2 separate regions of the Homo sapiens genome follow, and region 2 is linked to region 1. Evidence: fine-mapped expression QTL. A gene starts in region 1. The other region holds a variant in brackets. All regions are shown on one strand. Distances are between the middles of the regions.

Region 1 (2,897 bases):
TGTCAGAAAAACCCGGAAGGAAGGAAGCTGGACAGACAGACAGTAGCTGATCCTAGCTTCATTGCTCCAGAGAGACACCCTCCAGACTCCTAGACTTCAAGGGACACTATCCTTCTCAGAAGGAGAGAGCAGCCCTCTGTCTCTTCTGAAACCAAATTCCAGCAGCCCTGGAATAGGACCTACCCCAGCGCAACAAGAAGCCTAAGCTCACTTCTCTTCCTACATTCTTCCCCGAGGGTTCCTTTGGATCAAGACAGGGGCCACCTCCCCTTAGCAGCGCAGGGACACTTCCAAGGAACTGTATGACTGCCCCACCCCCCAGCCAAGCCCACATCACTCAGAAGCCTTGGAAGAAGAGACTCCTCAGTCACAGCCCCCGCTACTCACAGGCAGTGCCTGGGAGAAAAGGGTGACCCCCAGCTCTCCCCAGTCCCAACCCACCTCCTTCTGGAGGCTCCTATCAGCCAGAGGAGGAGGGCTGGGGTGCTGAGACCCACGGGGTTGGTGAGCCTGGGAGGGGGACTACATCTCCCAGAAGCCCCCAGGGCAAGGTTCGCTGCTCCAGCTGGCCCAAGGCCGGCCTTGTTCTCTGCGCTAGGGTGGCAGGGTCCCCTGGCTGTCCCTAAGCCCTCCCCACGGTGTTCTGGAGCTGCCAACCTGATTGGGGGCTTAAGAGTAGCCTCCACTGACCCTGGGGGAGTCCCCCACACCTTAAACAGCCTGGGGGTACGTGCCAGAGAGCAAGAGACAATCAGACTGTGTTTCCCCTCCCCGATTCAAACTGGATCTCCCTCCTCGCGCCTCTGCTGGCCTGGCATGACTTTCGCCTTGCCCCCAGCCCACCCCTCACCTCACGCGGATTGGGGGGTCCTCACGCCAGGCCGGAGCTGGACGCCATGACCAGGTCAGGGTCGTTGTGTGGATGGGGGTCCTCCTGCTCGCCAGTTGGAGATGCAGAGGGGGCGGGCAGGCGGTGATCTTTTGATCCTGGACGCCTTGATCTCAATACCAGCCCGGCCCGGGAGAGGCTATCCGGGGATCGCTGGGTGCCTGGGTTCCTGCCTCCCAACCGCGGAGCATGGTCGCGGGCGCCGGGCAGTGGCGGGAGAGCGCGCACACCCGCCGGGGCCGGGGCGCGGGGCCGGGGTCTCGGCCCCGAACCTCAGGGCTCCGGCTCCTGCTCCTGCTCCTCCTTCCCTTGCTTGCTTGCTTGCTTCCTTCCTTCCTTCCTCGCCTCTCCTTTCCTTTCCCCAAAGCCCGCGGGAATGCCGGGCGCTGGGTGGGGAGGGGCTGTCTGGGCGCTTATTGTTGGTCGGACTCCGAGGGTCCGGGTCACAGCCCCCGGGCGGCGCGGCGCCGGGGGACCCAGGCGTGCGGGCGTCCGGCCGGCTGGCTCCGGGCGGCGGCGGTGGTGCAGCGGCCCCGGGTCCGGGGCATGTCCAGCCACTGGCTCCGCCGCGCGCCGCCGCCTCCCCGGGCTCCCCTGCGCTGCCGGAGCCTCGCTTGCCCCTCCACTCGGCTCCACTCCCCAGCCTGAATAAGCATCGGGGCTCTCTGGCTGCCTCCTTCTGCCTTCATACCAGAGCCCGGAGAGGCCCCTGTCAAAATAAGAGCTCCCCCATCTCGCTTGCCTCCTCGCCCAACCCGGCTCCCCCAGCCTCCCAGTGGTCTGACTCGGTAAGGCGCCCGGCCGGCTAGCGGGAGGCAGGTTGGCCCGGGGGCGGGGAGGGGGGTTTCTGCTCTCCTCCTCACTCCTGAGAACTGGGGAGGAGACGCGCCAACAACATCCCAGGCTAGGGAAAGGTTTGACAAACCTACCTTCCTATCTGCACTGATTGGAAGGAGTGGAAGTTGCCTGGACACACGCGCGCGCACACACACACACACACACAGCACTGGGTCCCCTCTTCGTTGTACCCACCCACATCCATAATGCACTGAGCATCTCTTTATTCATGTCTCTCCTAGTAGACCATGAGGTCCTTGAGGACACAGACTGAGTTTTTTCATCTCAATCCTCAGCAGCACAAAGTGCATGCTAAGAAAATGTTTGTGGAAGTGAAACCTTTGTCTTCTCAAAAGAACTCTCCTAACCTAACCTCAAAGTGCTTCTCTCTCTCTCTCTCTCTCTCACACACACACACACACACACACACACTCTCACCACCCTATAGGACGATCGAGGCAATGAAAAAGAAAATGTAAAGCCCTTTTTTTTTTTTGAGATGGAGTTTCGCTCTTGTTGCCCAGGCTGGAGTGCAAAGGCGCGGTCTCAGCTCACTGTAACCTCTGCCTTCTGGGTTAAAGCGATTCTCCTGCCTGAACCTCCCAAGTAGCTGGGATTGCAGGCACCTGCCACCATGCCCGGCTAATTTTGTATTTTTAGTAGAGACAGCGTTTCACCATGTCGGCCAGGCTGGTCTCGAACTACTGACCTCAGGTGATCAACCTGCCTTGGCCTCCCAAAGTGCTGGGATTACAGGCGTGAGCCACCGCGCCCGGCCCAAAGCGCTTTTTAAAAACATTTCACATGTTTCAATGCTCACCACAAACCTGCAAGAAAGAGGTTATGGTCCCATTACAGAGGTGAGGAAATTGAGGTTTGCATTACCTAAGGACTTACCCAGAGCTACCCAGCTAGAAAGTGGTAAGCCCAGGACTAGAATTTGGGTCTCCTTATCCCAGGGCACTTTCCCTGTTTCCTACTGTCCCCACCCACCCAGAATTAATAGCAAGTGACAAGCATTGACTGTGTCTGATAGGAAGAACACTAGCCAGCCTGCTTGTTCCTGCTGTTTCCTCGGCCCTCTCCCCTGCCCCTCCTCACAGATGGTCCCCAGATAGTTCTAGCCTCACTGACCTCCCTCTCTTCTGACCACCTATCCCATCATAGCATC
Region 2 (2,897 bases), 23 kb before region 1:
GTGGCTGAGCCGGGTGGTGCCCACGTTGCTCATGGGCATTGAGCTCTGATCAGGGCTGAACATGTCTTGGGTATTGCCCATGTCCTGGGACATGGCTTGGTAGGGTCCCTGGCCTCCAGAGAATCCCTGCTGGCCCTGGTTGGGAAACTGTGAAGGCATCAGCATCTTCTGCGGGCCGCCCATCACGCCACTGCTGTTCTGGGCCCGAACCCGGGCCATCTCCTCAGGACTGAGGCCCTGGGGCCCCATCAAGTCCCCAGGGCCCCGCATCTTCTGCGACATCAGCATCTGCTGCTGCGGGGTCATCTGCACGTTCAGGTTCATGTTCATGTTCATGTTGACATTCATGTTCATGTTGAGGTTGCCTGGCCCCATGGGTGGGTCCACCTCCCTCAGCCCAGACTGCCCCATGGGAGGGCTCAGGAGGCCCCGGCCTCCACCAAACTCCATGCCCATGGGAGTGCCCGCCAGGCCCTCACCACCAGCCATCTGCCCGGGAAACATGGCAGGATCCATCTGTCGGTGCGCCTGCATCATCCGCTCCATCTCCATGCTCTGTCCCATGCCACTGCCTGCCATGCCCAGGGGGCGCTGCATGCCCATCGACCGCTTCTCCAGCAGCTGGTGCCGCAGCAGCTCCTCACGGACCCGGGGAGTCATGAATCGCTCCGCCTCACCCTGCCCACCTGGGTAGGGCATGGTGTTCTGGGCAAAATTGCTGGGTCCCCCCATAGGGGGCAAGTCTTCGGTCCAGCCCATGCCTGGTCTCACGGGCCTCTGCATGGCATTCATGGGCACCTCCATGGGCATACTCTGCATGCCCCCAAACCCAGGTACCCGTTGTATCTGGTTGCCTGGGAAACGGGGCCCAGGAAAGGGAGGTCCGCCCCGGAGCTGCATGGGATCTTGAACATCCATGGGCCCCCGCAGCTGCGCACCCATTCCAGGTGGCCACTGATCCCCAGGCTTGCTGTGGTAAGGAGGCGGGGGCCCCCTCACCATCATGCCCCCCATGCCCATCATGTCCTGCAGAGGACGGC[T/C]CCCATGCAGCCCAATCTGTTCCTCTTTCCGCCGTTTCTCTTCGTAGTACTCCTCCTGCAGCTTGCGCCAGGCCACCTGCTCAGGCGTGAGGCTGTCCTGGCCCAGCCTCTGTATCATCATGTTCATCTGCTGCCCCATGTCCCCACCCGGGGGGTGCCCAGGCACTTCATGCTCCAGCGGGGGGCCCCCTAGGCTCTGTGTCTGTGAAATCATGGACTGCAAGGGTTCCTCATATTTCTTCAGCCCGCTGGGAGGGGCCGTGGGTGGCTGCTGGGGGGGAGGGGGGGCTTGTGCTGGTGGGCCCCCCTCACCCGCTCCTCCTGGGGGCCCCTTGAGGAAGGGCTCAGTCTCTCCGCTGCGGAGCAGCAGTCGCTCAATGTCTCGCAGCGTCTGGAGGGACCGTTCCCGATGCTCCAGCTGCTCTTTGGACAAGCCCTCTGAGCCCACCAGGCTGCGCTGCCCATTTCCAGGGGCGGCTGCCTCCCCCAGCAGGGCAGGGCCGGGGGCACTGCTGGGGTCTCCTCCAGGAGGCAGAGGGTTGTTGGCGGTGGTAGCCGTCGGGGTGTTAGGGTGGGTGCCCCCAGTCCCACCACCTGTGCTGGCAGCTCCCACCGAGTTGGGGGCCAGGTCCTGACTGCTGTCCTCAGGAGGCCCCTCTGGGGGCAGAGCAGGCGGGGCACTGCCAGGGGCCGGGGGTGGCGGCGGCGGCAGTGGAGGTGGCTGGGACTGCGGGGTGCCTGCTGACGGCGTGCTCAGGGGTAGCGGTTCTGGGGTGGGGGGCACTTTAGGGGCCTGCAGAAGGACAAAGAGAGCATGAGACAGGTAAGGGGACGTTCCACCCAGTCCTGCTGCTCACAGAGGCGCCACGCTCACCTGGTCAAGCTTGGCCCGGGGCACGTTCTGCTGGTGGTAGGCGAGGATGGAGTCGGCCCGGCCCTGCAGCACTGCCTCTGCAGCCCTGCACAGAGTGGGGGCACCGACAGCTCAGAGAGGTGAGCAGGAGGGAGCCCCACCCTCACCCACCCCACCCTGCCCCTGCACGGGGCTCCCTCGGAACCCCAGGCTGAGAGGTGCTGGGCAGAGAGAGAGAGAGACTTGGCCTGCCCACCAGGCACTTACGTGTTGGCCAGGTGGGTGGTGAAGACATATACGAACTGCGAGGGAGGCTTTCCGGGGACGCCCCCGCCCCCGCCCCCGCCCCCAGGGGCATCAGGCCGAAGGCCAGGAGGAGGGCCGTGCGGGGCGCCTGGCACGCTGCTCTCGCTGAGGGGCAGTTGGGTGGTTTGGCCGGGACCCAGCTGTGGGGCCGCCATGGCTGGGTCTGCTACATTACAATCTGCAGGAGAGAGGACAGGGAAAGGGGCTAAGTGGTCTAGATACAAGAAGGACCAGCTGATGCCCCCTCCCACTGATGCTCACAGCCTTACAGCTCGTGCCCACAGGGACATTTGATGTCAGTATCTGGTGTTCTCACCAGGCTGGTTTCCACGATGGCAAGAGTGGTGACCATGTGGAGAGCAGGGACAGAGAAAATGTGTCCTCTCCACAGGCTCCCATGGGCCTGGCATTCTGCTGGGGACTTAACAGGTGTGATTTCATCTCATCAACACACCCTGGGAGGAACGTGTCACACACTCCACTTAACAAAGGAGGAAATAAGTTCCTCACCCACAGTTACACAGCCAGTTAGTGCAGAGCCAGAACTGAACCCAGGGCCGGGACTCTGAAGCTCCGCTCTGAGCTGCTGCCCCTCTCACTGGGTAAGTGTATGTGCACACAGTCTAGTGACCCAGTTAGGGAGAAGGCAGAGAGGGTACACAAGCTGATGATCCAAATGATGGATGGTTTTTCACTCT

Evidence for each region. PIP is the estimated chance that this variant, and not a neighbour inherited with it, causes the effect.
Region 2: its variant is fine-mapped to the expression of BCL9L in whole blood (TOPMed, PIP 0.90).

Annotation. Positions count from the first base shown.
Region 1 is chr11:118,924,388-118,927,284 of GRCh38, forward strand. It overlaps BCL9L (BCL9 like), which reads right to left and starts at 1,539. Exons shown (of 10, transcript NM_001378213.1): 1 at 851-1,539. RefSeq lists enhancers at 1-27, 256-325, 697-1,198 and silencers at 1,394-1,443, 1,644-1,783, 2,604-2,663.
Region 2 is chr11:118,901,076-118,903,972 of GRCh38, forward strand. BCL9L (BCL9 like) reads right to left here. Exons shown (of 10, transcript NM_001378213.1): 6 at 2,161-2,377; 7 at 1,915-1,999; 8 at 1-1,833. Among named protein-coding and RNA genes, the nearest start is that of MIR4492, 8.2 kb to the right of the region's middle. The variant T/C (reference allele first, on the strand shown) is at 1,041.